7 linked regions of the Homo sapiens genome follow. The protein of the gene in region 1 interacts with the protein of each later gene in a biochemical or structural test. Each region holds a gene or a part of one and is shown in the gene's direction. Other genes may lie near its edges. The genes, in order: NCK1, SYNJ1, PXN, SOS1, DNM1, MAP4K1 and FASLG.

Region 1 (4,669 bases):
ACAGAGCAAAGGAATGAGAATAAAGAAAGATAAGCAAAAAGTTTGCTCTTAAAAAAACCTCAACTATAATTCTGTTTCTTTGACAAACTTATAAATATCTTAGGTATATAAGACATTACTGTCTATATGATTATTTTGTTAGGCATTACAGAATATTACTTATTACCCCTCTGAACTATAATAAACTGATCCAAGATCAGTATCATCATCCTATAATCTGAAGATTATTACATTTTATCTAAAGAAAGAAGCCATTATGTGACTACAAACGTAAGAGCAATAATCTTGCTAAATTATGAGCAATTAGATATAAACCACCAATTATGAAAACGTGTAACATAATGAATTTATTGTCATAATTAACACAGCAAACATGTAAGTACATTAATTGATCTAAGTCTTATATACTATATGGGAATTAAACATAAATGGCCTTATAGTTGATTGTAATCATATTTTTAAATTTCTAAAAAATTGTGGTAAAAACAAATGTTATGAACTGAATTTTGTCCCTTCAAAAATTCACACATTGAAGTCCTAACCCCCAGTAGTTCATAATGTGACTATATTTGGATATAGTGTCTTTAAAGAGGTAACTGAGGTAAAATGAGGTCGTTAAGATGGACCTTAATCCCTTATGACTCCTCTTCCTGGTTCACCTGGCTAGAAATATTGGCATTAAGTACATTCACATTGTTGTACAACCATCTATTTCCAGAATAATCTTCATCTTGCAAAACTTAAACTCTGTACCCATTAAACAGTAACTCCCCTGTATATAGATAGCCAAACTACCAGTCATGTATGAGAGAACAAAATCACTTTCAGATATGCATTCTAAAAAATTTAATTCCAATATATTTTTAACTCAGGAAACAACTAGAGGACGTGCTCCAGCAAAATGAAGGGTAAAGCAAGAAAAAGTAAGACATAGGATCTAGGAAGCGGAGGAACTGTGGGCAGTAGTTCCAATATTGGTTTCATTTTCTAAACTTTTGCTGTGGTATTTGCATCTTTGCTTTATGCAGGGATGTGTGGGGCTTGAGTGGTGTTTATATTGTACTTCATTTCTTAGTGCCTTTGTGATGCTTCTTTGGATATTCTATGCATGTCCAATTTGGGAGAGCCCAGTACTTGTGTTGGTCCATAACTAGAATTATAGATGTCGAAGATAAACTGGACACTAGTTAAAATGGTAAGGACAGATTTTATTCAGTAACTATTGCAGTAGGGAAGAGTGTCCAGTGTGAACTCAACTCACTTTTGCCAAAACAAAAGGGGAAGAGACTTTTTTAAAGGTTGAGTATGCTAAGGGAAAGACACTGCTAAGGGAAAGAAAGATGGTTTTTTTGTTTTGTTTTGAGACGGAGTCTGTCTCTGTCACCAGGCTGGAGTGCAGTGGCGTGATCTCAGCTCACTGCAGTCTCCGCCTCCCAGACTCAAGCAATTCCCCTGCCTCAGTCTCCTGAGTAGCTGGGACTACAGGCACGCACCACCACGCCCAGCTAATTTTATTGTATTTTAGTAGAGACGGGGTTTCACCATGTTGGCCAGGATGGTCTTAGTTTCCTGACCTCGTGATCTGCCTGCCTCGGCCTCCCAAAGTGCTGGGATTACAGGCGTGAGCCACCGCGCCCGGCCACTGAGTGGTTTTTAAGGGCAATAGGTGGTCCATGTGAGTAGGCCATCTGGGTTTGTTATTGGCATTTATCTGGAAGAGAAACAAACTTATTATTTATGACAGGAGGTGGTGGTACAAATTAGGCCCACCAATGTTTGGCCCTTACCCTCTCGCCAGGGACTGGGAACAAAAGTGAAAGTTATCTTTTTGATTGTTTGCATTCCAAAGAGGTAGTTCTCAGGTCCTTGGGAAGATAGTTCTTGATGGTAGAAGATTTAAGTCACAAAGGGACAGAGAAAGGATTTATAATTTCAAGCTTTCTAAGGTAACTGCTCTAAATGGGGGTTCAGGTGACCATCTGCCTATCACCAGGTTTTGGCTGGAACAAACGGTAAATTCTGGCCATGTGGAGCCTTTTCAGGTAAGGAACTTGATGGAGTTGGAGTCATTATTCTAGGATATGGGGAAAAGATATGAACAAGCACTTTACACAGAAAAACAAATGTAAATGTCCCTTAAATATGGGAAAAGAAATCACTGTAATAAGAGAAATACAAATTACAACTCTGAAATACTATTTCTCCCCTATTAGATTGGCAAAAATCCAAAAGATTGACAACATAGTTTGTTGGCAAGGCTGTGGGGAAATAATCACTGATATATTGTTAGGAGTTTTTAAAAATAGTTTATGAATACAGAATTTAGCAGTATCTCACAAAATTATACAAACTTTAGCTGTAACTCAGCATTCTTCTATGATTCTAACCCAAAGGTACACTAACAGAAAATCAAAATGACACATGTATGAGGCTGTTCATTGCAGCACTATTTAATCCCAGAAAATTACAAACAACCCATTGACCATCAGTAAGGTCTAGTTGAAGAAAGTGCTACTTACATAATGATGACGCACTCTGCAATTGTTAGAAGTAGTAGATGTATTAGTAAAGGAAGTCTCATGTGCTGCTGTGGAATGATCTTAAGGATAGATTGTTAAACTGAAAATGAAAAGATTCAGGCAATATAGTCTATGCCTATGTGTATGTGTGTGTGTGTGTGCGCGCCTGTGTGCATGTGTGTGTGTATGTTTTGTTGTGGGGGTAGATAAAAATTAGAATTTTCAATTTTCTTATATATTTTTCTTGAATACTTTCCTTAAATTATTTAAAAAAAAATAGAAACATAAACCAAAACAAATAAATAGCTGTCCAGGCCGGGCGCGGTGGCTCACGCCTGTAATCCCAGCACTTTGGGAGGCCGAGGCAGGCGGATCACGAGGTCAGGAGATCGAAACCATCCTGGCTAACACAGTGAAACCCCGTCTCCACTAAAAATACAAAAAAATTAGCCGGGCATGGTGGCGGGCACCTGTAGTCCCGGCTACTCGGAGGCTGAGGCAGGAGAATGCCATGAACCTGGGAGGCGGAGGTTGCAGTGAGCCAGGGTCGCTCCACTGCACTCCAGCCTGGGTGACAGTGCAGTGCGAGACTCCGTCTCAAATAAATAAATAAATAAATAAATAAATAAATAAATGGCTGTCCAGTGGGGTGGATGGGAGAGGGGAGAGAAAAGAGAAGGTATGGAAGAAGACCTCTCTAAATGTTTTAAATATGTTTGATATTTAAGCATATTTAATGTTTAAACATTCATATAAACAATATTAAACATAATGTTCAAACATGTTTGATATTTAAACATCTACCTTGCTTGATAGTTTAGCTTTTAGAACCATCCAAATGTTTTACATAATTATGAAACAATTACATTTTAAAAAGGGAAAATAAAGTGATCTTCAAAAAATGAAAACAAGTGAGCCTAACTCTACGTCCAGTTGGTGTCATAACCACACAGAAGTATATATTCTACCTTTTCTGTAAGGTTTTATGTTTTAGGGTAATAGAACAATAAGCAAAATTTTCCTTTGAGAATAATCACAGTTTCTGAAAGCAGGTAGAGCTAGCACATCATCATTATTGAAATAGTTGATCTAGGCAGTGATCATCAGTGGCAGGTAAAACCATTGGGTAGAGGTTTGATGGGGGAACTTTATAATAATGGATAAATCAGTTCAGTGCTACAAATCTACCATTCAGTCTTAACATCACAGAAAATGGTTCAGGCAGACATAATGTGCCTCCTAATAAATGGCAATAACAAGTACACAAGAATACTTAACGAATTATTCTTGCAACAATGACAAAACAACCTAGAAAAAGTAAAGCCTCTAGAAATAATTACCAGTTTATAGGAGATAGGGGGGATAGAGGAACACCATGAAAATATACACTAGCCAAATTCACGATGTGGGAAATGCTACAGGACAAGTGAAGCCAGCTTCTTAAATAAATGACATAGAGTGGGGAAAGAGAACAGTGTCAGAGACTTAAAACATGTTAGCTTAAGTGCAATATATCGACTTAGTTTGGATCCCAGTTCACACCAACTGTAAGAATGTTTAAAAAAATACACTTAGCAAAAATTGAATATTAGCATTAGATGAAATAAGTGTTGCAGGAGTTCTTAATAAAGGAACACCTTTTCAAAATGAGCTTTTGAAAATATACTGATAATTTAATTTTAGTATAATTGACTTGTTTGCAATCTTATATATTTTTATGCATCAGAAACATTGTGAGTAGAGGTTCTATGTTTCACCACACTGCCATTAGGCAGGAGGAGGGGAGGTCCATGGCTTAACCCATTTGTGCCTAGTGTTCCATTATTGGAACGCTAAGCTTGTGAGAGTTATTTATATCATGCTCAAGGTCGTCACCAAGGTCTGATTTTTCACACAAGAAATTGCAACCTCCGGCATATATGGGTTAAAAAAGGGAAAAGGTCAGGAGCCCTTGATTTGTTCATTTTTGAGGGGTATGGGTTTTTAATCTGTTAGTGCTTAATGAAATCATGGGATTCCAGTTCCCCCACCAAAAATTAGGGGGATAGCTGAACCACAAGGCATAATATTGATAAAATTGGGTGATAGGTATAGGATTCATTATACTATTCTCTTCTGTAAATGTTGAAAAGTGCCATAATTATAAAACT
Region 2 (4,669 bases), on another chromosome or scaffold:
CCTTCTGATTTAATAACAGGAAGGGAAGCTGTTGTTGACATTTCATGAGAGTGATCTCAGAAGTGATGAAGTCAGATAGTGGTAAATTGATATGGATGGAAGGTGAAGAAGTGGAGAAAAGTGTCTGTAGACAACTCTTTAAGAAAGTTTGGGGGGAAAGAGAAGAGGGCAATTGCTCTAGGAAGATTGGAGGTCCTAGGGTGGTGGTTTTGGATGGGACAGGCTTGAGAATGCACAGTGCTAATGGAAAAGTAGAGGAGAAAGGGCTGATGGTTTGGGGGAAGGGCAAGGCAGAATAGTAGAGCAGTGTCACTGAGAAAATTAGGCTGGGTGGGGCCCATTTGTTCCATCCTCAGATACCCAAGTGACAACCATGTAATGAGACTCCAGCTTGGGGGCAGGCTGTTGAAGTAGGGGTTCCCATCTTAAGACTTCCCTCTTCTCTGTGAAGTGTTGAAGTGATCTGCAGGAGTGGGACAGCTCACAGTTTCAGGAGGGTTAAGGAGTTTTGCAGTAAAGCTCCTGAAGAGCAAAGGGTGAGGGGAAGAGCAAACCAGCAAATCATGGAATTGCCAGGCACTTTAGGCCAGAAGAGACTGAAAAGCATAATTTCAAATGTGACTGCAGTTGTCAGGACTGGGTGGTTTTCTTTAGCAGAGGCAGTCAGCAATCCAAGTGTTATCACAGAAAGATTAAACAGGGGAATCAGTGCAGGGATGGGGTTATGTCAAGCACGTGCAATGGAAGAAGAGTGAAGTAGGGTAATGTTTGAGATGAAGAACCATAGAATCTGAAGGTAGGTACAGAAGAAAGCAGAATCAGATGGAGGTAAAAGTTAGAGGGATCAAACCCTGGCTTCTGAAGAAATCAAAAGAGAAGGAGTAGCCAAGGGAGAGAACTGAAAAGCTGGGAGGCCAAAGTCAGAGTGAAGCTTTTGAGTTTATTATTTCAGAAGAGTGCAGTTCTGAGGGGTGAGGGTTAGGAGTGAAGGCGAATGTCCATAAGGATAGGACCAAGGCATTTTGCTATTGAACGAGTTGTCCACATGGACTTTGATGCCACGCAGAAAGATGGTGCGGGACCTGACTTACAGTCTTGCTCTCTGCTTAGTCCTCAGTGAGTGGGTTCAGGAAATGGAAGAATGGACGTTGGAGATGACTGTAGCAAGTGGGGGTAGAGGATGTTACATAAATTCCTGATGGCATAGCCTCAGAGCAGTAGGACTTTTTGTTCAGGGTTGGAAGACTAATGTTCTGGAATGGCAGTTAGGTTGCAAGGGTTACCTTGTGCCCACTTTCCTACCCAGAAGTAAGTGGAGATGAGGAGACCCTGGGGGAGAACCAGTGTTTACTTAATTAAAGCAAAGCGGGTCTTTGTGGGGTGAGGGTTGCAGGGAGGAGCCTTCTGGGGGAAGACTGTGTGGCTCCTGAGAGCTTGTTGACTCTGAGGCTGGACCTGGGTTAGGCAAGGGAGTGGGGCAGTTCCACAGAGCACAGTGGACAGGTTTGGAAGGAGAGCAGGAAACTTGAGTTGGCTTGCACTGGAGAAGCTGCTCTGGGGCATATTGAAAGCCCATTGGGTCACCCCAGCTCCAAGTGGTTGGTCACCTGACATCTTATTGCTCAGAGACAATAGATACCTTTACATCTTCTGAAACAAGCATTTCTACTAATTGTGGTTTTATACATGCCTTCATGCTTAATCCATGTGTGTTTGCAATGACATAATGTTCATATTTGTTTTGTGTATTTTAACTTTTTAAAACCTAAGGTGAAAAAAATCTCTGAGCAAGTTAAAATGGAGTTATCTCTGATCAAGCCTGCTTTTCCTTAGGTGATGTTGATGACTATAGTGCTGAAGTGGAGGAACTTCTTCCTCAGCATCTCCAGCCATCTTCAAGTTCCGGCCTTGGTACTTCCCCCAGCTCTTCACCCCGAACTAGTCCCTGCCAGTCACCTACAATATCAGAGGGTCCTGTACCTTCCCTTCCCATCAGACCAAGCCGAGCACCGTCAAGAACTCCTGGGCCTCCCAGTGCACAGAGTATGCATTTTATTTGAAAGTTTTGTATGGCTTCCTGTGGCCAATGTGCTTGATGTTGGAGAGTCATCGTTTAAGTTTCATACCTAGGTGATAAAGTGCACCCTGTTTTCTCCGGTACAGAATAGGAAAACTTGTAGATGATAAGCTCTCAATGGAAAGGAAACTTGCTATAACTGTCACTAGATGACAATTGTTCTTAATCTTTTTTCTATGTGGTTAGGTTTGTCTATGTCTTATAACTGATGATTTTCTATGGTATGAACCCGTTAACTATTTGAGCTTTTTCTTCTCTCTACTGGCCAGACTACAAAATGGCTTAACTCAAACAATACTTTGTGCATATCAATAGGGCCACTTAGTAAATTAGCTTTCAGCACCTGAGGCCTAGGTAAGAAGTCAGCACAGAGGTAGCATTATTGCTGCCATGGTACCAAAGGGCAGTTTAATAGTAGACTGCTTTTGTTATTCATACTGAAAATACATGCCCTTTCTTTACACCATTGTGCACATTTTATAGAACATTACACATATATATGAAGGACTGTTCCCTTCTGTCAACAGCTACTTAGAAGCTGATCTTCTTACCTCCTGTGCGCTTTTTAGGTTCTCCTATTGACGCGCAGCCAGCAACGCCGCTGCCGCAGAAAGACCCCGCCCAGCCCTTGGAGCCCAAGCGGCCGCCGCCGCCCCGCCCGGTCGCCCCTCCCACACGCCCGGCTCCCCCACAGAGACCTCCTCCGCCTTCAGGTGACAACCTTTTATTTCCATTTCTGCTAGATGTAAAATTCTTCACTCTATTTTAAAATGTTTTGCATGTTTTCCAATCTCTAGCTTCTGGATTTTACAGTTTTTTCTATCATTATTGCTATTTCTTAGCTTTTCTCTAAAGAACATGGTAGGCGCAACAGACAAGGTAGAGTGTTTGCAGAGTAGATTCCTCTAAGGTGTTTTCACAGCTGCCTTTAGCTGCCTTCTCACCAGCCAGCCAGAGAGGTTTATTTTGTTTTTGCTAATTTGATCTAGTTAGGCATGTAAACTGTTCTTAGGTAAAATTAGGTTTAATTTTTTTCAAAATCCTCATTTCTGGATGATTTATAAGCATAAAATAATTAAAATGTACTAATTTCTGTAAAAGTATAATAAAACTGGAGAGCATACGTATTAATGTACAATTGTATGTATTTGTTTAATGTTCTTTTAAATTAAATATAGTGCTGTTACTTCAATTATAAGCATATGCATTGAATAATAGTTTTTGTAGTACGTAGATAATATGTAATTCCTGCATGATACTTGATGTCATGGATACTATAGCAATCTTTGACATTTCACTTCTGTATTTAATGTCATTTCCTTTCTGCTGCCTATTTTCTTATGAACTATAAGGGGCTAGGAGTCCTGCACCCACTAGAAAGGAATTTGGAGGTAACCATTTACATTTGTTAGCATGTGTGAATCGTGGTTCATTAATGTTTTACACCTGAAAGACATTTTAGATTTGTTTGATAAAAGTCAAAATGAATGACATTCTAGTTTAAAACTAATCCACAAATAAAACTAATAAAGGCTTTCATTTCCCAGGTAGGCTGGGATTGTTCATCAGGCCTAATTTTTTTTTTAATAAATGTGGTCGATTCATTTACAAAGATTTAATACCCAAAAGTTATATTAATTTTAAAAGTCATTCAGGTACAGTAAATACAGAACATTTCCCAAGTATCTGATTAGTGATACATTTATTTTCTAGTGGAAAAGCTTTTGGATTAGCAAAGAACTGTATGATTTTCTTTTCCTTTCTTCATAAGGAAATTTTTATTCACAAAGGGTCACTTTTTGTTTGAAGTATAGTTTATTTGGTTTACATGAAAACTCACAGAGCTCAGTTGGAGTTATACATTTGACAAGTTTATTTAATCTAAATCTCAAGAAAAGATGAGATGAGTTTTCACAATTCCTCAGAAGAACTTTTACAAATCCAGTGTTACTAAGGCTCACTGTGCATGTGTAGCCTGGTCTGTTTCTATTGTAGCTTGCCTAGTGACATGGCTGAGCAATTCAGGTCTTACTACAGACTGACTTTGCCTGTGTGTAGATCTTAATGACTGCGTGTGATAAGAATAGCTAAATTATTTCAGCATTACAGCTTCTGCCGAATACAGCTAAGTGATCATTTCTCCATTGACCTACAGAAAACATTTAATTTTTCCCTTTTCAAGCTCCTGCTTTTATAGAAAACATTTAATTTTTCCCTTTTCAAGCTCCTGCTTTTATTTAAATTTCCATGATAATTTTTGCTTATCTTCTGCTTTAATTAGGAAAACATCCTGTAGAAAATAAATTTAAAATGAATCTGTCAAAAGTTAGGCAAGCCAGTGGATTACAGTGAAATCTGTCTTAATTTTAAAAATTGCTCCCCTTCATAATTCTTTTGTAAGTAGTGTTTGCAACATGTTTTTTCATCCTATAAACAATAATTCCTTTACGTCATTATAGTACATTAGAGTTTTTAAAATTAATGCATCAAAAACTAACTTCAAAAGACTTACGTAGTCTCATAGAAATTTATGATTTCTTTCCTTTTGACTATCAAATATCAGAGTTTTTACTTGCTCTGGATATAAGGAGT
Region 3 (4,669 bases), on another chromosome or scaffold:
GCCTCTCCAGGGAGGCCTTGGATGCTGGGCCAGTGGTAGACAGAACATGCGGTTGGCCAGGCCCAGTGGAACCCCAGTGGCCAAATCTTCCCTTAAAGACGGACTTTTAATGCTTATTTCTTGTGTGATTGTGGTATTGTGGTTTTATGGGAGAATATTGTTATTGTTAGGTGCATGCTAAAGTATTTAGGAGTGAAGTGTCATGATGTCTTGCAACTTATTTTTATTTTTTCATTTTTTATTTTTGAGGCAGAGTCTTGCCCTGTCACCCAGGCTGGAGTGCAGCAGCGCGATCTTGGCTCACTGCAACCTCCGCCTCCTGGGCTTAAGCAATTCTCCTGTCTCAGCCTCCTGAGTAGCTGGGACTATGGGTGCATGCCACCACACCCGGCTAATTTTTGTATTTTTAGTAGAGGTGGGGTTTCACCATATTGTTTAGGCTGGTCTTCAACTCCTGACCTCAGGTGATCCACCTGCCTCAGCCTCCCAAAGTGCTGGGATTACAGGTGTGAGCTACCCCACCTGGCCTCAACTTAGTTTTATTTGTTTTTTTTTGTTTGTTTGTTTTGAGGCAGAGTTTTGCTCTTGTTGCCCAGGCTGGAGTGCAGTGGCACCATCTCAGCTCACTACAACCTCTGCCTCCTGGGTTCAAGCGATTCTGCTGCCTCAGTCTCCCGAGTAGCTGGGATTACAGGCATGCACCACCACGCCTGGCTAATTTTTTTATTTTTAGTAGAAACCAGGTTTCTCCATGTTGGTCAGGCTGGTCAGGCTGGTCTCAAACTCCCGACCTCAGGTGATCCACCCACCTCGGCCTCCCAAAGTGCTGAGATTACAGGTGTGAGCCACTGCACCCAGCTCAACTTAGTTTTAAATGATATAATGAAAAAAAGGATATACACATAAAGGGCAGAGAGCACAAGGGCCATGCGTTTACACAAAGTGGTAAAACAATGACAGCCATTCAATCTAAGTGAGAGTACCCGGGCCTCTCAACTTCTCTGTGTGCTTAGACATTTTTATAATGAAAAGTTGGAGAAAAGTAAGGAAACCCTGCTTTTCCATGATGGGCTTGGAGTTGTTGGGCCTAGGTGCTGGCCTGCGCCTGCCTATGGTTGGCCTGAATGACTGCTGGTCTCCTGTGATTGAGCAGGTGGTGGGAAGACTGGGTGAGCAGAGACAGTAGCTGGGGGGGCCTCAGGTGACAGTGACTGCTGACTATCATCTGGGAAATGGGGAGCACAGTGCTGTGACCTGTGCAGAAAAAAGACAGGCCCAGAGACAGTGTGTGTCCATAGGTGTGGAGGCAGCCTCATGAGTTATTTGAGCATGATGACATTAATCAGACCAGGGTTGAAGCATGTGAGATGCCGAACTCTGGTTGGAGTTTGAGATGGGTTGTCTAGGCTGATGGGATGCAGAGCAAGACTTTTTTTTTTTTTTTTGAGACGGAGTCTTACTCTGTCACCCAGGCTGGAGTGCAATGGTGTGATCTTGGCTCACTGCAACCTCTGCCTCCCAGGTTCAAGTGATTCTTGTGCCTCAGCCTCCGCAGTAGCTAGGATTATGGGCGTGCGTCATCACGCCTGACTAATTTTTGTAATTTTAGTAGAGATGGGGTTTCACCATGTTGGCCAGCCTGGTCTCGAACTCCTGACCTCAGGTGATCCGCCCGCCTTGGCCTCCCAAAGTGCTGGGATTACAGGTGTGAGCCACGGTGCCCAGCCACAGCAAGGCTTTACATAATTCAGGGAACGGTCTCTGGGCAGCTTGAGGCCTGTGGGCGGGGAGGAGATGTCTTTTGCCTCACATCATGAACCCCTTATCTGTGGCCAGTGGAACACCATTAACCTGTGGGCAGTGATGGCTGAGTGTCCCCAGGCTTTTGCTTATAGCTCAAGTCTGACCATCCAGTTTTCCAGCCTTCAGGCTCCCCCTCCTGGAATCCCCACTCCCTTGGTCCCTCCTGTCTAGTTTGTGCTGACTCAAAGCTGGCCCTCTTGGACCTCCAGTCTGTTTTGGGGAAATAGCTGGATTCTGGCACCAGTGGCCCTCTTGGCTCTGAGGCAGAGGTGAGGGCCCTGGTGCCTACTAGAAACATTTCGGGCAGCCAGCAGGCTCTCATGAGGGGAGGGCTTCATGCCAAGGTCTTCTTTCAGCCTCATGTCATCTATGTCAGCGTGCAGAGATGCCGAGGCTGGCCACTTGGCGAGGACTATGAGGTCTTCTAGCGAGGGCTCAGAGCTTCACTCTGCCTATTTGAAAGCAGCATGATGTGTGTTTTATGGGGGAGGGGGTGATGCTGGGAGGAAGCTTTATGTAATTCTTGGCTGGAGCTCAGGTAATTGTTTTAATGAAATGGAATGCAGCTTATTCAGAATTCGCTTGGCAGAAACAGCCATGTTCTGTTCTGTTTTCTTGTTGGGGAGAGCAGGGCACACATTTCCAGCTGTTTTGAATCGTAGAACTCTGGGTGAGCTGGAGCAAGGGGGGTGGAACCCTCCAGGGAGCTCCAGGGAGCTTCAGGCCGATTCTCTTCTGGATCCCGGTCTGTGTGTATTGTTTTGAATGAGCCTTGGAGACTTTGGCCTCTTCTAAAACATAAAAACCCTACTGAGGCCAGGCGCGGTGGCTCATGCCTGTAATCCCAGCCTTGGGAGGCTGAGGCAGGTGGAACACCTGAGGCCTGAAGTTGGGAGTTCGAGACCAGCTTGACCAACATGGAGAAACCCCATCTCTACTAAAATACAAAATTAGCTGGGCGTGGTGGCGCATGCTTGTAATCCCAGCTACTCGGGAGGCTGAGGCAGGAGAATTCCTTGAACCTGGGAGGCGGAGGTTGCGGTGAGCCAAGATCAGGCCACTGCACTCCAGCCTGGGTGACAGAGCGAGATTCCGTCTCAAAAACAACAACAACAACAAAAAAAAACCCTATTGAAAGCAGGCTATGAAATGGGTGTAATGCCTGCCTTCCACATTGTTGGGAGACTGAGTGAGGTGCTTAGCACATAGTAGACAGATCCTCAAGGATGGCCTCTATTTGCTCACGCTTTACTCCACCCCCCACGTCCCCATCTTTCTACCCCCTTTTATACCTCATGGTCATCATCTTCTGTCAGTGTAGATGGCTGTGGCCCCATGTGGCCCCGATGTCCCCATCTGCAGGTCCACCTGGCTCTCCTTTTTCTTCTGGTTCCGTTTTTCTCCTCTCCTTCTCTTCTCTTCTTTCTCTTTTCTCACAGGGTCTTGTTCTCTTGCCCAGGATGAAGTACAGTGATCTGATCACAGCTCACTGTAACCTCCAACTCAAGCGATCCTCCTGCCCTCAGCCTCCTGAGCAGCTGGGACTACAGGCACGTGCCACCATGCCTGGCCAATTTTTTATTTTTTATACAGCCGGAGTCTCATTATGTTTCTCAGGCTGGTCTCGAACTCCTGGCCTCAAGCAATCCTTCTGCCTTGGCTTTCCAAAGTGCTGGTATTATAAGTGTGAGCCACCATGTGTCTTGCCTGTTTCCCTCTTTTTACTTTTCTGCTTTTACTAACTTCAGTTTTTTGTTTTGTTTTTTAGAGAGTCTTGCTCTGCCGCCCAGAATGGAGTACAGTGGCATGATCTTGGCTCACTGCAACCTCTGTCTCCCAGGGTCAAGCGATCCTCCTGCCTCCGCCCCACCCCCCCCAACCCCCCGCAGTCCGCAGTAGCTGAGATTACAGGCACACACCACCATACCTGGCTAATTTTGTATTTTTGGTAGAGATGGGGTTTCGTTTGCCATGTTGGCCAGGCTGGTCTCGAACTCCTGAGCTCAGGTAATCCGCCCACCTCGGCCTCCCAAAGTGTTGGAATTACAGATGTGAGCCATTGTGCCTGACCTGCACTTACTAACTTTTTTACTTTGCTCCTTTTTATTTTATTTATTTTTAAATTTATTATTATCTTTTTTGAGACAGAGTCTTTCTCTGTCACCCAGGCTGGAGTGCAGTGGCATGATCTTGGCTCACTGCAACCTCCGCCTCCCGGGTTCAAGTGATTCTTCTGCCTCAGCCTCCTGAGTAGCTGGGACTACAGGCGCCCGCCACCATGCCCAGCTAATTTTTGTGGTTTTAGTAGAGATGGGGTTTCACCATAGTGGCCAGGCTGGTCTTGAACTCTTGACCTTGTGATCTGCCTGCCTCGGTCTCCCAGTGCTGGGATTACAGGTGTGAGCCACCGCGCCCGGCCTGTTCCTTTTTAAATTTTAACACAGTCTGACCCATTCTTCCACGTTTGCTCTTTTGCTGAGACACCTGTCTCACCCTTTAGCTGCATATTTTTTTCTCCCTTCCTTAAGCTCCGCTTGCTTCTCCAGAGACCCTCCCACCTTCTTTTCCCAAGTCTCCTCTGATCCCTGAGTGGAGGTGCACCTGGGTGTTTTCCCAAAGGATTTCTCTGAACTCCTTGTTTTTCAACTATGCACCTCGGTCAGTTAATCAACTGCATGACCTCTTTTATAACCTGTGTGCTGGTGACTCCCAAATTTATATTTCCACCCCTGACGTGAATTCTATTGTCCAGATTCTTCCGGTCTGCGCACCAGCAGAGACTCAACTCATTTCCTTTCCACTCTCCCTTCTCATCTACTCCCTTCTCATTTCCTTTTCACTCTCCCAGGCCCCATCTACTGCCTGT
Region 4 (4,669 bases), on another chromosome or scaffold:
AGATTACTTTTTTTTACTGTATTGGGCTACTTTTTATTAGTTGTCATTCTAAATATTTAGTAGCCAAGATAGAAATAATCATTTTGTAGTTACATTTAAGGAGAATTTTGTCAGCAATCATTGTGCTTTTTAGAACACTGAAAAAAATTTCTAGGTTGCTTTAATTTTCAAAATTGTGTAATTTTGTAATTCTAATCTATTTGGGGAATTAGTGAATACCTTCTCAGTGAGACTTGTAAAAATCTACTTTTACACTTTCCCTTACTTACATGAGCTCTAGGTTTTCTGTCATCTATGTACTAATAATGTCTTTTTCTTTATTCCAGTGAATCTGCATGTCGGTTTTATAGTCAGCAAATGAAGGGGAAACAACTAGCAATCAAGAAGATGAACGAGATTCAGAAGAATATTGATGGTTGGGAGGGAAAAGACATTGGACAGTGTTGTAATGAATTTATAATGGAAGGAACTCTTACACGTGTAGGAGCCAAACATGAGAGACACATATTTCTCTTTGATGGCTTAATGATTTGCTGTAAATCAAATCATGGGCAGCCAAGACTTCCTGGTGCTAGCAATGCAGAATATCGTCTTAAAGAAAAGTTTTTTATGCGAAAGGTACAAATTAATGATAAAGATGACACCAATGAATACAAGCATGCTTTTGAAATAATTTTAAAAGATGAAAATAGTGTTATATTTTCTGCCAAGTCAGCTGAAGAGAAAAACAATTGGATGGCAGCATTGATATCTTTACAGTACCGGAGTACACTGGAAAGGATGCTTGATGTAACAATGCTACAGGAAGAGAAAGAGGAGCAGATGAGGCTGCCTAGTGCTGATGTTTATAGATTTGCAGAGCCTGACTCTGAAGAGAATATTATATTTGAAGAGAACATGCAGCCCAAGGCTGGAATTCCAATTATCAAAGCAGGAACTGTTATTAAACTTATAGAGAGGCTTACGTACCATATGTACGCAGGTAAGAATTATGCAGTTGCCTGTCACTTTTGTTTTCCTGCTTCAAACTGATTTTCTTTCCTGCATGGGTTTATTGTGCCTAAAATAGAAAAGAAACTAACAACCAAAGACCTCTTTTCTTTGACTAAAAATACCCCACTTTATATTTCTTTGGAATGTTTTACTTTTTCTACTACACTTAAATACTTTTTTTTAACCTTACCATCAGTTATAGATGAGAAAATGAGGTCACTTGGCTAAATTTATCCAGTTAGAAAGTGACAGAAACAAGACTAAAGTTAGTAGTAAATCATCATTATTGGGATCTAAAAAGTTTTTTACTCCTTTATCTTTTTTTTCTTTCTTCTTTTTCCATTTCTGAGATTATAAATAAAAATTTTAATATAACAAAATTGTGCTGGTAGTACAAATATACACGGCATTGCTTTCTCTCAGTTTCCACTCCTAAACCTGATTATTTAATAATAAATGTTGCAATCCTGGAAGCCAAGGATTCCAGTTTTATTATAATTTTTCACCTAGAAATGTCTATAGTCAGTGTATTTATTTTACTGACCCAAAAATTTAAAAAATCATAGGAAATGTAAATAGGCTGCCTAGATTTTACATGAAAAACAAATAGGTTATTGTCATTTTTTTCCATATAAAGCTGTTTTTTGAGAGGTACAATTTTTCGGTAGTATGACCTGCCGATTTAGTTGTGCTTCACCAACCTTTTCTATGTTCTTTATGATCTAGACTACAACTATAAAAATGTTTTTTATTCAGTTACCCAAAATTTGTGATTGCAAAATACTTCTTTTCTGCTTAAGAGATTTTTAAGGCTATAAAAGTTCAAATTGCCCTTCTTGCCACATTTTCCTGGTTTTTAAGTCCCCTTAGAGGACTCATAGAATTTTTATAACATGAGCATTCTAAACTTTATCATTTCATCCTAAGTACTTTTGTTTGGGGTTCCTAGACTCATTTGGAGTAAAATTAATCTTTAGATTTTTCTCTGTGTTTGTAAGAAAGAAGTTTTAATTTTTTTTTTTTTTTTTTTTTTCCTGTAGAGCATTGTAAGAAGACTTACTACTAGTGTTTACTGTCACAAGTCAGTGATACTTGGGCAGGAAAACATTTTCAAATTACAAAATTTTTAATTGTTTCTGTAAGACTTGATTGAGTGATAGAAGTTTTCTCTAAATTGCTATATTTCACAAAGTTAATTTATGATTATTAATAAGCAGCTGAAGAATGGTTACAACTATTGTCTGGGGAACTGTCCCTTTTATTTATTTTTTTAAATGAGGACACTTTAAAGCAAAATTAACTGGAACAAGCTGATACTTGTTTTGTAGTCCTGAAAGTCTTCTTTCCTTAATGTGTACAATGTTAGGTAAAGTCCGTGGACATGGTACTTTTGTAATGATGTTTTATTAGTTATTTCTGTCTGATACTTCTTTTCTATATCAATTTTTAGCTTTGGTATAGAGTAATATTTTGAGTGCTTTTACTTATAATGAATATAAAACACTTAAATTTCAAGATTTATAGAACTTTGCCAAAGTTAAGTGTATTGAAAATTTAAGTTGATGAGATTATTTTACTTAAAAAAAATGTTTTTAAAAAATTCCTTCCAATAATTTTTTGAGAAATAAAAGGCCAGTGTTGTGGCTAAGTTTTTTGATATTTTTCTTTTCTGTCTTCTTTTGAAGCTTAACTGAATATTTTAATTTATGTCATAAATATATTACTGGTGAAACTGGAGTCTACAAGCAGCTTTCGTGAGTTGTGGTTTACAGTACACACACATTAGTGTTAACTGTTAGCTTATTTGGGCTATTCTGTAAGGTCTGTTACTGAAGTTATTACTGGCAACATAGAATGGTTTTTAATAGACCATCTGTGAACTTGTAAAACTGAAATGGACTTTTAAGGCCTCACTACAATGGTAACAGATCAAGTTACCATTTGTTTTTAAGAACTACTGGTCTGCTCTTCTCCTCTCATCTTTCTTCAGCCTCCCCAAAGAGAAAAGGGATTTGTGATTTGGTTAGTAGGTATGTTTATTGGAGAACATGCAGTACAGGTTGTGGCTTACACTGAAACAAAGCTAACATTTAACTTACACATTTTTATTTTATTATATAGAATTGTAATAAAAGACATTGGATATAATACATGAGAAAATTTAATGAATACTATAAGACACGACTTACAGACATCTTTTAGATTATTATAGTTTGGTTAGACATTGTCATAAAAACAGAAGAGAAACTGGTTTAACCTTACTTTATTCAGACTTCACTGTGGTGTCAGCCAACTTTATCCCTCAAATATTTTAACAGTAATGTACAAAATGGAGCTATAGATCTCTAATGCTAGAAGAGATGCCCAAGCCTTCACTTTGTAGACAAATCCCAAGGCCCCTGAAGATTATATGATTTCCCAGAAGTTCTATTACGAGTTAATTCCAGAACAAGTCAAGAATTAGGTTTCTTGACTCTAAATAGAGTATATTTTCTACCATGTTACATTGACTCATATAAGGTGATTGTTTTCATGAATAGAATATGTTGTAATTTTTTAATTATATGTGTTAATAATTAAGTAAAAGGATCTGGTACAGATGTGAGCTCAAAAAAAATAAATAAATTACTTCCTTGGTTTGAACTGCCAATAATATAAATGGCTTGTTCATTTCTGGGCAAACGTGCGTACTATGAAGATATTGTCAGTAATTTTTTTTTCTTGAAATAGGATATAGGTAAGCTCTGACTATAGATACACTTCCATTGGAATGCATAGATTTTTTATGTATAGATACTGGTCATTATTATTATTTTTATTTTTTTACAAAACCCAATTATTAGTCTATTGATGTAGTTTGCTCACTAAAGGGAAAGCTTTGTGGAAAGAAAAATTTAAATTTAGGTGAATTAGAAAGTGGTTAACTTGCTTAAAAGATTGCAACAGGGTCTTAGGTGGAATCTAATTTATAGCTTGTCTCTCAGATTCGGTGTTTCTGGATGTATCATAATTTGCTGACTATATCAGAACTTTGGGGTTTGTCCCAAAAACTAGGGGAAAAATTATCCAATTGGATGGATCATTCTAAATCTGGCAATGGTATGAAGAGACTATTTCCTTATCCTAAGTAAGAAAGCACAAAGCAATATGCACAAATAAAAAGTTGAGAGTAGGAATTTCACGTCTGTTACAGAGTTGTTGTAGGCAACAAAGTACAAGTTAATGAGACCTAAAACAACACGAGTAGATAAATGGTAGGTGGTGCTGTGTCCAGTTTGGTAGTCTATTTTAGAAAAATGAGATGACCCTGAAGTAAGGATAATAATTCAGAATTGACATTTTATGGGAAATAAAAGCTTTGCATATTGAAGTGAGGGAAAAGGTGTTTCCCTTGCCTGGGAATTTCTCTTTTCCAGAAGATGGTATTGAAAAAACTTAAGCCAGAAGATCGTTTTCTTTAAAGTATTTACTGCTATTTTATACCTTCATAGGGAAAAGCCTCAAAAACCTGAATTAGATTTATTTTGAGTTTGTGTCCTATATAAGCTCAGTTTCGGTGTTTTAACTTATTTAAATCTTTTGAACAATTTTTCATCTATAGGGCAGCGCTGTTCTATTTTTATACTCTCTGATTTTTTAAAAAAGTGTTTGTGCGTCAGCATAGCGTCTGTTTCCT
Region 5 (3,500 bases), on another chromosome or scaffold:
GTCATTTTCTGAATCTTTTAAAATGGAGAACACATGATTTTAAAAATTAGAGGCAAAAGAGATCTATTTCCCTTTTGAAAATACAAAGTCATCAACCCTTGGATTGATGGAAGGGAGGGAGGGAGGGTGGGAAAGAAAGTAGGAAGGATGAGAAGATAAGAAATAAGGGAAGGTAATAGGCTCTGCTTAATAGGGAGAAAGATTGCTGTGGAGAGAGCACCTACCCGGACTCAGGAGCCCTACCTTGTCACCAACTTGCACCATGATCTTGGGCAAGACTCTTCCCTTTTGTGCCTCAGTTTCTACCCTATACAATGAAGCCGATGGTAGAGCTCATCTTCCATTCCCTCTTTTGGTCAGTGCGGGTGTCCTGAGAGTCTGCTACATGCCAGACCCAGGGCTAGGTGCTGGGATATTGTGACAAACAAGTCTAGCCTAGTCCCTGCTCCCGGGGCCATCAGAACATCAAGGAAAGCCAAGGCCAGAACTGCCCTGCAGTGTTCAGACCTCAGCTTGAAATTCATGAGCTGTGACGGGGCTGCCTAGGGTCCCCTGGGGCAGCAGGAACAGAGAGCGACTTGTTGCCTGGGGGTAGCCTCACCTCCTCCCAACTGTATTTCTTGGCCTACCCACTCCCTTGCAGGCACCCCAACTCCCTGCTTCAGAGCACGCCCCTGCCCACCCCCCTTGCCTTCCACCTCCAGGGTCAAGATCTGGCTGGAAATATCCTGCCCTCACCCCCAAGCTCACTGCCATCCTCCAGGAAACCCACCGTCCAACTCTCTCCCCGCTGCCTCTTCTGGTGACGAGGCTGTGGGAGTCCAGCCTGTGGTCTCAGCATGCCCAGCAAGCTATCGTTATTTATAATCATAGTAGCCACGATTGGTTCAGCCATCAGTCTGTATAAGCCTCACAGCAACCCATTTTACTGATGTGGAAACTGAGGCTCAGAGAGGTATGGTCATTTGTGCACAGCCACACAGCTCCTACATGACAGCTCAGACATTCAATGTGGGGTCCATCTGACATCAGAGCCCAAAAAAGAGGAGGCATAGAAGAATGACCGGCACTGGGTGCACGCCCAGTTAAGCACGTTACTTCCTGGGGTCATTTGCATTCAGCAGGGCCTGGGAACCAGGATCCCAGAGCTCTGATCCCAAGTCTCAGGTCCTAGAGTAGGGGTAGGGGTAGGGGTCACATCAGCCCTTGGGTTCAGTTTCTCCAGACCCCTCTCACGGTGACAACTCCAGTTCAGACAGGGAGTGTGGCATTTGGGGTTCCTGAGAGGTGTTTGTTTCGTCCCCTCATGTTTCACGTTTGAAGGTGCCTCTGCAGATGGCCAGGCACAGCCTCCCTGGGAACCCACCATCTGCTCCAAATGAGTGGGGAGAACTGGCATGCCAGCAGCCGCCCCTCCCACGCTGGGCACAGCACGCGGCCTCCGAGGCTGGTGGGCCTGATACTTTTCTCTGGGCACCTGTTCTGTCCTCCCTTAGCCTAACCAGGAGCTGGAGGCTGGATCTAGTCTGGATCCCCACTGGGGAGAAGGAGGGCCACCTAGGGGACCCTTAAACAGAGGGCTAAAGTGGGACAGTGTGTCCAGGTGAAAGGGAAGAGCTAGGGAGCTGCTGAGTCATGCACATTCCTTCTCGTGTTGCCTGCACGCCTACTACGTGCGGGGCCTGTGCCAGGCAGGAACCCGGAAGTGAGTGAGGAGCTCATTGTCCGGACCTGGGGACCTGCTGGTCCTCCCCACTGTCAGTCCAGACGTGAGACTGGGAAGCAGACCTCTCGGGTCCTGGCACCAGGCACCAGGCCAAGGAAAGGCCAATGTAGGATTCGATGAAGGAGCCAGCCTGGCACTGGCTCCTCAGCATGGGGCAGATGGTCCTTAAACTTAACACGGAGTGTGGAAACCACCTGAGGATCCATTTAAAACCCAGATTCTGCCTCCCCATGAAGCCCTCTTGAGATTCTAGCCCAGCATGCCTGAGGAGCATGCGTCTGGACAAACTACCCAAGGCATTCTGATGCAGGCCGCGTGAGGGCCTCACTTTGAGAACCTGGGCCATGACAGAGATGGGCCACCTCCCCATCTGGGCACCAGGAGATCTTGGCTCTGGGAGGGGTTGACCCCCAGACATGGCCCTGCCTCTAGTCTCTGCTTCCCAGAAGCTACTTGCCCTTTAAGTAGCCCTGGGGAGGCAGCAGGCAGCTGGCCCAGACCCTGACCACCCAGCATTCTTGCCAGCTGGGCCCTGGGCTCCCCACACCCGCTATGTGGCACCTTGGAGACCTCCACCCCTCAGGCTCACCAGGGCTGCGTGGGCCTGTCTGCTCAAGGAGAGGCCTCTCAGGGAAGAACTCCAGGGAAAGTCCACGTCTCTGTGTGGGGGACTCTTTGTGGGGAGTCCCATCCTTTCCAGCCCCTCCTGCAGTTTCCATGGCAACTACTGTTGCCATGGTGTTGCTGGTGAGGAGCTGGTGGAGAAGAGGGTGGACCCCCGGCCCCCACACCCACCCCAGCTTCTATGAGAACAGCTGTTCTATCTCCACAGCCCTGGGGGACTCCCAAAACTGGAAGTCACGCCCCCAAAGGAGTCTTTGAGTAAAGGATGGGAGAGATTGAGACCGGAAGTCCTCCCACCCCCCAGCAAACCCCCTCCCTCTGTGCCGCCTGGCACACCTCTGTTCTAGCACATACCACGCTGCATTGCATTATCTGTTTACTTGTCTGTCTCTCCCACCACACTGTGAGTTCCTCAGGGTGGGAACTGTCTGACTCATCATCTCCCATCCCCAGAGCCCGGCACAGGGCCCGGCACAGACTGAATTTAATTGAATTACATAAAAAGCCAAGTCTGGCTTCTTGGGTTTGAGACAGCACCATTGAATGAGGAAGTTTCCAGGCTGAGGGTCCAACAGACACTCAGCTTTGAATCCCCACTCTGCTGTGTGACCTTGGGTGAGTCACTTCACCTCTCTGAGCCTCAGCTGCTTCCTCTGTAAAATGATAATCTCTATATCAGAGCACAGATTCGAGGACTTGGAGATTCAATCAGAATTTATTGAGTGCCCCTTGTGTGCTAAGCCCTGTCCTGGGCACTGGGATACAGTGGCAGACAGAAAGAGGCTGCCCTGCTCACTGTCTGGCAAGAATGAAAAGCATTTGCCTGGTGCGCAGAAATGATGAATATACACAGGGCTTACCATCCTTCTCCTTCTCCAGTATAATTCCTGACTCCTCCCCAGCAGCGTCCACTTCCCCAGACGTGAGGCAGTGGAGAGGCTTCAAGAGGGGGCTTTGAACCTAGGAGCTCTGGGTCTAGTCTGTTGTACCTAAGACCCTTAGCTCCTGACCCTGGGGTGCAAGAAGACTTGTGAGTCTGGGTCAGGCTCTGGGCTGGGAGCAAGAGACCTGGGTTCCACCTCTGGCTCTGTAGAGCTTGAATGTATCTTTTTCCCTCCCTGGGCCTCTCCATGAATAAGGCGCTGGCTGT
Region 6 (4,669 bases), on another chromosome or scaffold:
ATGTGGACAAGGCCCCCAAGGCTCATACCTGTCACCCTTCAGGAAGCAACTGTCAGAGTCGTCTGACGATGACTATGACGACGTGGACATGTAAGTGAGGCCCTGCCTGCAGCTCCACAGGCCCCACCTCAGCCCCCACCTTCCTACAATCCCCTGATGTGGCCTTTCCTCCACTCCTGACCCCGCTGCACCCCTGCCTTTCTTCTAGCCCCGAGCCCTGAGCCCTGATTAGACCCTCAATGCAGCCCCTCTGCCCAGCTACCTAGGCCCTGTTCCCTAACCCCACCTCCCTTAACCCTTCACCTCCAACCCCTGACCCCCAACCTGATCCCAGCTCCAGCTCCCACTTTCCTTCTTTCCTTCCACCTTCTTCTTTTTTTTTTTTTTTTTTTTTGAGATGGAGTCTCACTCTGTGGCCCAGGCTGGAGTGCAGTGACGTAGTCTCAGCTCACTACAACCTCGGCTCCCCGGGTTCAAGCGATTCTCCTGTCTCAGCCTCCTGAGTAGCTGGGATTACAGGCACCTGCCACCATGCCCAGCTAATTTTTTGTATTTTTAGTAGAGATGGGGTTTCACCATGTTGGCCAGGCTGGTTTCAAACTCCTGACCTCATGATCCGCCCATCTCAGCCTCCCAAAGTGCTGCGATTACAGGTGTGAGCCACTGCACTTGGCCTCCTTCCATCTTCTTATACAATCTTTTGACTTGACCCTCAGCGTCAGCCCCCCACCTGCTCTCCACCCCAGAGCTGACCCCAGTTCCTTCTAGAATGTGCTGCTGCTCCAATCTCTGACTTGACCCCACCTATCCTCCATGACCCTGCACCCTCAGCCACATCCCAGTCTCAAACTCCTCCCGAATGTCACTCTCACCCCAGACCCACCCTCCAGCCTTCAGCCCCAGCCCTCAGCTTTTCCTATCTTTTTGCCCGCCCTCAGGCTGAACCTTGGCACCTGGAAATCTCCCAAAGACCAGATACTGAGCCCCAGATCCAGACCCAACAGTCAGCCCAGGCCCCCATACTCCCCAGCCCACAGGCCGAGTCAGGCTCCATCCAGGTGCGCGCACTCACTTCACCCATCACGTGCGACAGCCTGTGTGTGGCGCCAGCACAGGGAGAGCAGGGCCACGGCGCTGATGTCACCTGTGTTACTAGGTGGTGTAAAGGTGCAAAGCCGTGGTGCACTGTCAGCACTCCACCTCCAAGAGTTGCTGTTACTGTTATTAGTCTTTTTTTTGGAAACAGGCTAATCATTTTTTTGTAGGATGGGGTCTTGCCATGTTGTCCAGGCTGGTCTCAAACTCATGATTTGTTTTGGCACCAAGGCTAAGTGCAGGAGTGCAATGATGGCTTACTGCAGCCTCAACCTCCCAGGCTCAAGCAATCCTCCCACCTCAGCCTCCTGAGTAGCTGCGGTCACAGGCGCACCTGCCACGCCTGGCTAATTTTTAATTTTTTTCTGGAGACAAGGTCTTGCTATGCTGCCCAGGCTAGTCTCGAATTCCTGGGCTCAAGCCATCCTGCCCTGGCCTCCCAAAGCACTGCGATTACAGGCATGAGCCACTATGTCCAGCCTGGCTATTAATCCTTTAATCCTCTGCTCCAGGCAGAACCAGTCATCCCTTAATCCTCCTCACCTCAGACCCCAGTCCCGGGCCTCCAGCCCAGAACCATGCCATCTTCCCCGAGTCCTTGTTCCCCAGCCCCCCAGCTATTTAACCCATCTTTGTGTTTCAGCCCCACCCCTGCAGAGGACACACCTCCTCCACTTCCCCCCAAGGTAAGGCCCTGGGCCAGAGCTGGGAGGCTGGGGCCTCAGGGCCACTGGGGGCCAGGAGGCCAGGTCCTTAGATGCTGGGATACTGGGCTCTCCAGGGCAGGGAATTGGGGAGACCAGGATGATGGCTACATTGGGATCTGGAAGTGGCATCCCTCAACCTCAGGGTCGGATTCAAAATATTTAGCCTCTTAGACACTGGTCAGTAGCTGGTCCTAGGAAGCCCCTGCTATATATCCAGCATTAACCCATTAGTTTCTGAAGTGTGTTGATGTCCAGGCTGGGGATGTCAGGGGAAGGCTGGAGGGGGCACAAGATGTTGTCGGGGGGGTGGGTCAGAGCCACAGCTGTTAGTTCTGGTGGAGGCAGGGACTTGAGTTGCAAAAGGGTGCCCTCTCTGAGATCATCTGATGTATTTCCCCACGCTCCATTCCCGTCTCCAAAGCCCAAGTTCCGTTCTCCATCAGACGAGGGTCCTGGGAGCATGGGGGATGATGGGCAGCTGAGCCCGGGGGTGCTGGTCCGGTGTGCCAGTGGGCCCCCACCAAACAGCCCCCGTCCTGGGCCTCCCCCATCCACCAGCAGCCCCCACCTCACCGCCCATTCAGGTAATGGGACAGGCTAGGGTGGAGGGCGGGAGGGTTGGGGGTTCTTGGGGGCTGATTTTCTCCTAACCCCTCTCAGAACCCTCACTCTGGAACCCACCCTCCCGGGAGCTTGACAAGCCCCCACTTCTGCCCCCCAAGAAGGAAAAGATGAAGAGAAAGGTGAGGTTCAGCTCTGCTGAGGACTTACACCTCTGGACGGGGCTGGGGATGCCTGGTGGGGTGGGGAGGGGGTGGCAGGACTGACAGTAACAACAGGTGACATTTGTTGAGCGCTTCTCTGTGCCCTACACTTATCTCCTATCATTACATGGCATAAAGCTTCACAGAGTGAAGAAGATATCACAGAGATGTTATCCCCCATTTCACAAATGGGGAAATTGAAGCACAGAGAGGGTAAGTGGCTTACCCAAGGTCATATAAATACCTTTGAGGAGGCAGGCTGAGGCAGGATTGTTGTTTCTGCTTTTTTTTTTTTTTTTTTAAAGACGGAGTTTTGCTTGTTGCCCAGGCTAGAGTACAGTGGCGCGATCTTAGCTCACTACAACCTCCGCCTCCCTAGTTCAAGTGATTCTCCTGCCTCAGCCTCCGGAGTAGCTGAGATTACAGGCAATGCAGCACCATGCCCGGCTAATTTTGTATTTTTAGTAGAGGTGGGGTTTCACCATGTTGGTTAGGCTCGTCTTGAACTCCTGACCTCAGGTGATCCACCTGCCTCGGCCTCCCAAAGTGCTGGGATTACAGGCATGAGCCACCGCGTCTGGCATGCTTTTTTTTTTTTGAGACAGAGTCTCACTGTGTCACCCAGGCTGGAGTGCAGTGGCGCGATCTCGGCTCACTGCAAGCTCCGCCTCCCAGGTTCACACCATTCTCCTGCCTCAGCCTCCCGAGTAGCTGGGACTACAGGTGCCCGCCACCAGGCCCGGCTAATTTTTTGTATTTTTAGTAGAGACGGGGTTTCACCGTGTTAGCCAGGATGGTCTCGATCTCCTGACCTTGTGATCTGCCCGCCTCGGCCTCCCAAAGTGCTGGGATTACAGTCATGAGCCACCGCGCCCAGCTACTAAAAATTTAAAAAATTAGCTGGGCGTGGTGGCACACACCTATGGTCCCAGCTACTTGGGAAGCTGAGGTGGGAGGATTGCTTGAGTCCAGAAGTTAGAGTCTTTTGACAAGATCCATCAAAACCTCCATGAGTCACTACCACATATGCAGTTGCCCAAAGAGCCAAGATCTCAAGAAATTTTACCTCTCATAAATGGAGATGTACAAAAAGAACATCTCTTTATTCAGGAAGTTTCAGTGTTTTTACGTACATGCATAATGCCTACACACGTAGTCAGTGTTGTGATAATGCACCTTTGTGGCATCAAATTTGCCAACAAATGCATAAAATGAATTAGAACTCTCTAAAGTCTTTTTTTTTTTTTTTTTTTTTTTTTGAGATAGTATCTCGCTCTGTCGCCCAGGCTGCTGGAGTGCAGTGGCGCGATCATGGCTCACTGCAGCCTTGACCTCGGAGACTCAAGCAATCCATGCACCTCACCCTCCCTAGTAGCGCTTGGCTAATTTTTTTTTTTTTTTTCTGAGATGGAGTCTCACTCTGTCGCCCAGGCTGGAGTGCAGTGGTGCTATCTTGGCTCACTGCAACCTCTGCCTCCCCAGTCTAAGTGATCCTCCTGCCTCAGCCTCCTAAGTAGCCATGACTACAGGCGCCCACCACCACGCCCAGCTAATTTTTGTATTTTTAGTAGAGACGGAGTTTTGCCATGTTGGCCAGGCTGGTCTCAAACTCCTGACCTCAAGTTATCTGCCAGCCTCGGCCTCCCAAAGTGCTGGCATTACAGGCGTGAGCCACCGCGCCCGGCCCAGCTTGGCTAATTTTTAAAAAAATGTTTTATAGAGGCAGGGTCTCACTATGTTGCCCAAGCTGGTCCTGAACTCCTGGGCTTAAGTGATCCTCCCACCTCGGCCTCCCAAACTGGTGGGATTACAGCCGTGCCTGGTTGGCTACCGGCTAAAAGTATGTATAATTTATACCTCCAGCACTGGAAATGATTCAAAGATGAAATGCATAGCATAATTAATCATACATATATACATATACATATATACACACACATATACATGTATATGTGTGTATATATGTATACGTGTATATATATGTATATGCATATATATGTACATGTGTATATATGTATATGTGTGTATATATGTATATGTGTATATATGTATATGCGTATATATGTACATGTGTATATATGTATACATGTATGTGTGTGTGTA
Region 7 (3,806 bases), on another chromosome or scaffold:
TCTTTGTTTCTGAAATATAGACTACTATGAATCCTGCAGTTCAGACCTACATGATTAGTATATGTTAGACTGTTGCCATTTACGGTTTTAAAATCTTTTTTTTAAAATGATTGGATTTAAATTCCCACCAAAATAATAGTTGCTATTTCATTTTAACATATATTTTTCCTCTCTCTATGATACAGGCCACCCCAGTCCACCCCCTGAAAAAAAGGAGCTGAGGAAAGTGGCCCATTTAACAGGTCTGTATCTGGAAGGTACAGGTGAGATTTGGGAAAGCTTTTGGCAAAAGGCAAAATGGCTGCCTGGTTTCCATTACCAGGCTCTAGAGAGTTGTTACTTCCTGGAGACAGTATTTGAACCCAATAATACTAACACTTTTCTTGTCGAGTCAGTCTTATGAACACACTTTGATCCCCTATTCTCTGGGCAAGGCCCTCTTCTAAATTGGAGACCTGGAGCTGATTATGACATGACCCCTGCCCATAAGAAGCTCATTCTTTTCAGTCATTCCAAAGTCCCTTGGGGGATTGGGGGCACAGATCCAAGAGGTGAGAGATGAGAAGGTGAGGAATGAGGACTTATTTTAGTCAGTGCTTTCTTGGTTTTCTGGAAGAGCTTCACTCTGCTTTGTCCAAGAGTATAAATAGGAGTGAGAAGGGAGACTCAATCCTGGCACTTGTAGAGTTTCAATATGTGCCTGTAAAGTGGAGTGAAATGATATGGTATGGGCACTCCCATTATAAACTACATAAATAATGGAATAAATATCACAGAAAGTGGTAGGCTATTGTCCCTGGAATTATTTAGGCAGAAATTATAGAATGATCCGGTCACATCAGCAGACACTTACTGAATACCTGCTGTGTGCCAATTTGGGGATGTGAAGATGAGTAGCACATGGCTCTTGCCCCCAGGGAGCTTGACATCTAATAGGGAAAGACAGGCACTTATGATAATTTCAGTACTTCAGAGATTTAGGTTATGTTCATGATGTTGTGGGGATACAAAGAAAAGGGAACTGTACCCCAAATTGAGGGGCTGAATAATTCTTACTGCAGGTGAGAAGATGGACCAGATGGTCCCTAAGATCCTTCCCAACTTTAGAACTTTAGAGTTCCTTGGATTTGGCTTTTTCCTTCAGGAAAGGACTTCAAAGCCTAGCAGATTTGGTGCTAGTTCTGAAGATAGTAAAATCTTTGTTCCAGAGAGCAAATATTTTCTCAATAATTTCTTACTGCAATGGATTACGGGTATATACTATTGTTCCAATTGTGTGGATGACAAAATAGGACAACGTTGTTGAGGAAATTCTGTGATGGATCAAGTTCTGACCCCTCAGCCAGTTCTATACCAGCTGTCATTCTGGGTGAAACATTTGTTGAAGGAAGGGCCCACAGTTTTGCCTTAGAAACTTAGTTTGTTGGATGCATGACTATTCCTTGTTGAAAGCTCCTTTTGGATTTATTTCAGGCAAGTCCAACTCAAGGTCCATGCCTCTGGAATGGGAAGACACCTATGGAATTGTCCTGCTTTCTGGAGTGAAGTATAAGAAGGGTGGCCTTGTGATCAATGAAACTGGGCTGTACTTTGTATATTCCAAAGTATACTTCCGGGGTCAATCTTGCAACAACCTGCCCCTGAGCCACAAGGTCTACATGAGGAACTCTAAGTATCCCCAGGATCTGGTGATGATGGAGGGGAAGATGATGAGCTACTGCACTACTGGGCAGATGTGGGCCCGCAGCAGCTACCTGGGGGCAGTGTTCAATCTTACCAGTGCTGATCATTTATATGTCAACGTATCTGAGCTCTCTCTGGTCAATTTTGAGGAATCTCAGACGTTTTTCGGCTTATATAAGCTCTAAGAGAAGCACTTTGGGATTCTTTCCATTATGATTCTTTGTTACAGGCACCGAGAATGTTGTATTCAGTGAGGGTCTTCTTACATGCATTTGAGGTCAAGTAAGAAGACATGAACCAAGTGGACCTTGAGACCACAGGGTTCAAAATGTCTGTAGCTCCTCAACTCACCTAATGTTTATGAGCCAGACAAATGGAGGAATATGACGGAAGAACATAGAACTCTGGGCTGCCATGTGAAGAGGGAGAAGCATGAAAAAGCAGCTACCAGGTGTTCTACACTCATCTTAGTGCCTGAGAGTATTTAGGCAGATTGAAAAGGACACCTTTTAACTCACCTCTCAAGGTGGGCCTTGCTACCTCAAGGGGGACTGTCTTTCAGATACATGGTTGTGACCTGAGGATTTAAGGGATGGAAAAGGAAGACTAGAGGCTTGCATAATAAGCTAAAGAGGCTGAAAGAGGCCAATGCCCCACTGGCAGCATCTTCACTTCTAAATGCATATCCTGAGCCATCGGTGAAACTAACAGATAAGCAAGAGAGATGTTTTGGGGACTCATTTCATTCCTAACACAGCATGTGTATTTCCAGTGCAATTGTAGGGGTGTGTGTGTGTGTGTGTGTGTGTGTGTGTGTATGACTAAAGAGAGAATGTAGATATTGTGAAGTACATATTAGGAAAATATGGGTTGCATTTGGTCAAGATTTTGAATGCTTCCTGACAATCAACTCTAATAGTGCTTAAAAATCATTGATTGTCAGCTACTAATGATGTTTTCCTATAATATAATAAATATTTATGTAGATGTGCATTTTTGTGAAATGAAAACATGTAATAAAAAGTATATGTTAGGATACAAATAATTTTTAGAATTTACTAATATTTGAATTTTTTGCTTATTATTTCTTTCCTCCTTGATTTCTTCATTCATTATGATATCAGACCACTTTTAAGAATAATTTACTGGAGTGAGAAGAACTATGAATCAAATCTTTCTGCCTTTGCTAGGCCTTCCTTCTCTCTATATATTCTCTTTCCTCTTCACCTCCCAGAGTTTCCATTACCAATATTATGACCAATGTTAAGCTTAGCCAACTTTCCATAGATTTGATGAGAAATTATATTTTCCTGAAGGCAGAACCATGGCACAGTGGAAAGGGCACATATTTTGGACTAAAAAACTTAGATTTGAATCTTTGTTCTTCCACGTACTGCCTATGTAAGCACTGGTTAGGTCACTTGACCTTCCTTGAACAAAAAAAGAGCTGAAAGTATCAGACACATAGAACATCAAAAAATAGTGTCTGCCACTACTAAGCCACTCTATTAGAGCCACTTCATTCTCCAGAGGCCACTGATCTGTGGGATCCATCTAAGCACCTGGTTTCTTGTATTCTCATGCTTGTCATTCACAACGGCCTTTTCCTATTTTCTTCAACCACTCACTATCATGGGCTCTCCCTAGACTTTGTTATCATTAAAAATTATAGTAACTCCTTTGGAATTTGATTTTAGGTGTCTTATTTTCACAACATCATCTTCTATTATTCCAGCGGAATTGGTCCAACATTTTCTTTTCTAAAATATTTTTGAAAATATTGAGACTTCTAATTAATAAACTTTATTATTTTCTTATATACACATCAGCTCCTTCCACGTCTTCACTTCTCTCTATGTCCAGCATAAATGTCATCATCTGTCATGACAACCAGCACCTTGGAAAGACTCTCAACTCCAAAATACTCTCTTCCTCCAATGTATTCCCCTTGCAAAAATCCTATTTTCTTTAAGCTGTCATCCCAGAAGCTGGATGTTGCTGGACAAAAATTACACAAACAGGCTGCCTAGTTTTAGTTTATTTTTATCTAACATGAATTTAAATCAATCAATGATTGATCTGTCACTGACTTAGTTTTATTTTTTGATTGATTTGAATAGGTA

The links.
Region 2: the proteins of NCK1 (region 1) and SYNJ1 interact in a test that uses a peptide from one of them, tested with the Homo sapiens proteins (one study listed by IntAct).
Region 3: the proteins of NCK1 (region 1) and PXN form a complex in vitro, tested with the Homo sapiens proteins (one study listed by BioGRID).
Region 4: the proteins of NCK1 (region 1) and SOS1 form a complex in vitro, tested with the Homo sapiens proteins (2 studies listed by BioGRID).
Region 5: the proteins of NCK1 (region 1) and DNM1 form a complex in vitro, tested with the Homo sapiens proteins (one study listed by BioGRID).
Region 6: the proteins of NCK1 (region 1) and MAP4K1 form a complex in vitro, tested with the Homo sapiens proteins (2 studies listed by BioGRID, with this or other methods).
Region 7: the proteins of NCK1 (region 1) and FASLG form a complex in vitro, tested with the Homo sapiens proteins (2 studies listed by BioGRID and IntAct, with this or other methods).

The regions. Positions count from the first base shown.
Region 1 is NC_000003.12:136,920,442-136,925,110, forward strand, and holds part of NCK1 (SH2/SH3 adapter protein NCK1), read left to right. Parts: intron 1-4,669. UniProt on the Homo sapiens protein: Adapter protein which associates with tyrosine-phosphorylated growth factor receptors, such as KDR and PDGFRB, or their cellular substrates. Maintains low levels of EIF2S1 phosphorylation by promoting its dephosphorylation by PP1.
Region 2 is NC_000021.9:32,643,767-32,648,435, reverse strand, and holds part of SYNJ1 (synaptojanin-1), read left to right. Parts: intron 1-1,833; coding exon 1,834-2,043; intron 2,044-2,646; coding exon 2,647-2,790; intron 2,791-3,429; coding exon 3,430-3,468; intron 3,469-4,669. UniProt on the Homo sapiens protein: Phosphatase that acts on various phosphoinositides, including phosphatidylinositol 4-phosphate, phosphatidylinositol (4,5)-bisphosphate and phosphatidylinositol (3,4,5)-trisphosphate. Has a role in clathrin-mediated endocytosis.
Region 3 is NC_000012.12:120,254,969-120,259,637, reverse strand, and holds part of PXN (paxillin), read left to right. Parts: intron 1-4,669. UniProt on the Homo sapiens protein: Cytoskeletal protein involved in actin-membrane attachment at sites of cell adhesion to the extracellular matrix (focal adhesion). Recruits other proteins such as TRIM15 to focal adhesion.
Region 4 is NC_000002.12:39,018,883-39,023,551, reverse strand, and holds part of SOS1 (son of sevenless homolog 1), read left to right. Parts: intron 1-326; coding exon 327-982; intron 983-4,669.
Region 5 is NC_000009.12:128,213,379-128,216,878, forward strand, and holds part of DNM1 (dynamin-1), read left to right. Parts: intron 1-3,500. UniProt on the Homo sapiens protein: Catalyzes the hydrolysis of GTP and utilizes this energy to mediate vesicle scission and participates in many forms of endocytosis, such as clathrin-mediated endocytosis or synaptic vesicle endocytosis as well as rapid endocytosis (RE).
Region 6 is NC_000019.10:38,603,285-38,607,953, reverse strand, and holds part of MAP4K1 (mitogen-activated protein kinase kinase kinase kinase 1), read left to right. Parts: intron 1-42; coding exon 43-90; intron 91-938; coding exon of another isoform or gene 939-1,058; intron 1,059-1,738; coding exon 1,739-1,781; intron 1,782-2,223; coding exon 2,224-2,386; intron 2,387-2,462; coding exon 2,463-2,545; intron 2,546-4,669. UniProt on the Homo sapiens protein: Serine/threonine-protein kinase, which plays a role in the response to environmental stress. Appears to act upstream of the JUN N-terminal pathway.
Region 7 is NC_000001.11:172,664,149-172,667,954, forward strand, and holds the end of FASLG (tumor necrosis factor ligand superfamily member 6), read left to right. Parts: intron 1-185; coding exon 186-242; intron 243-1,473; coding exon 1,474-1,868; 3' UTR 1,869-2,728; downstream 2,729-3,806. UniProt on the Homo sapiens protein: Cytokine that binds to TNFRSF6/FAS, a receptor that transduces the apoptotic signal into cells. Involved in cytotoxic T-cell-mediated apoptosis, natural killer cell-mediated apoptosis and in T-cell development.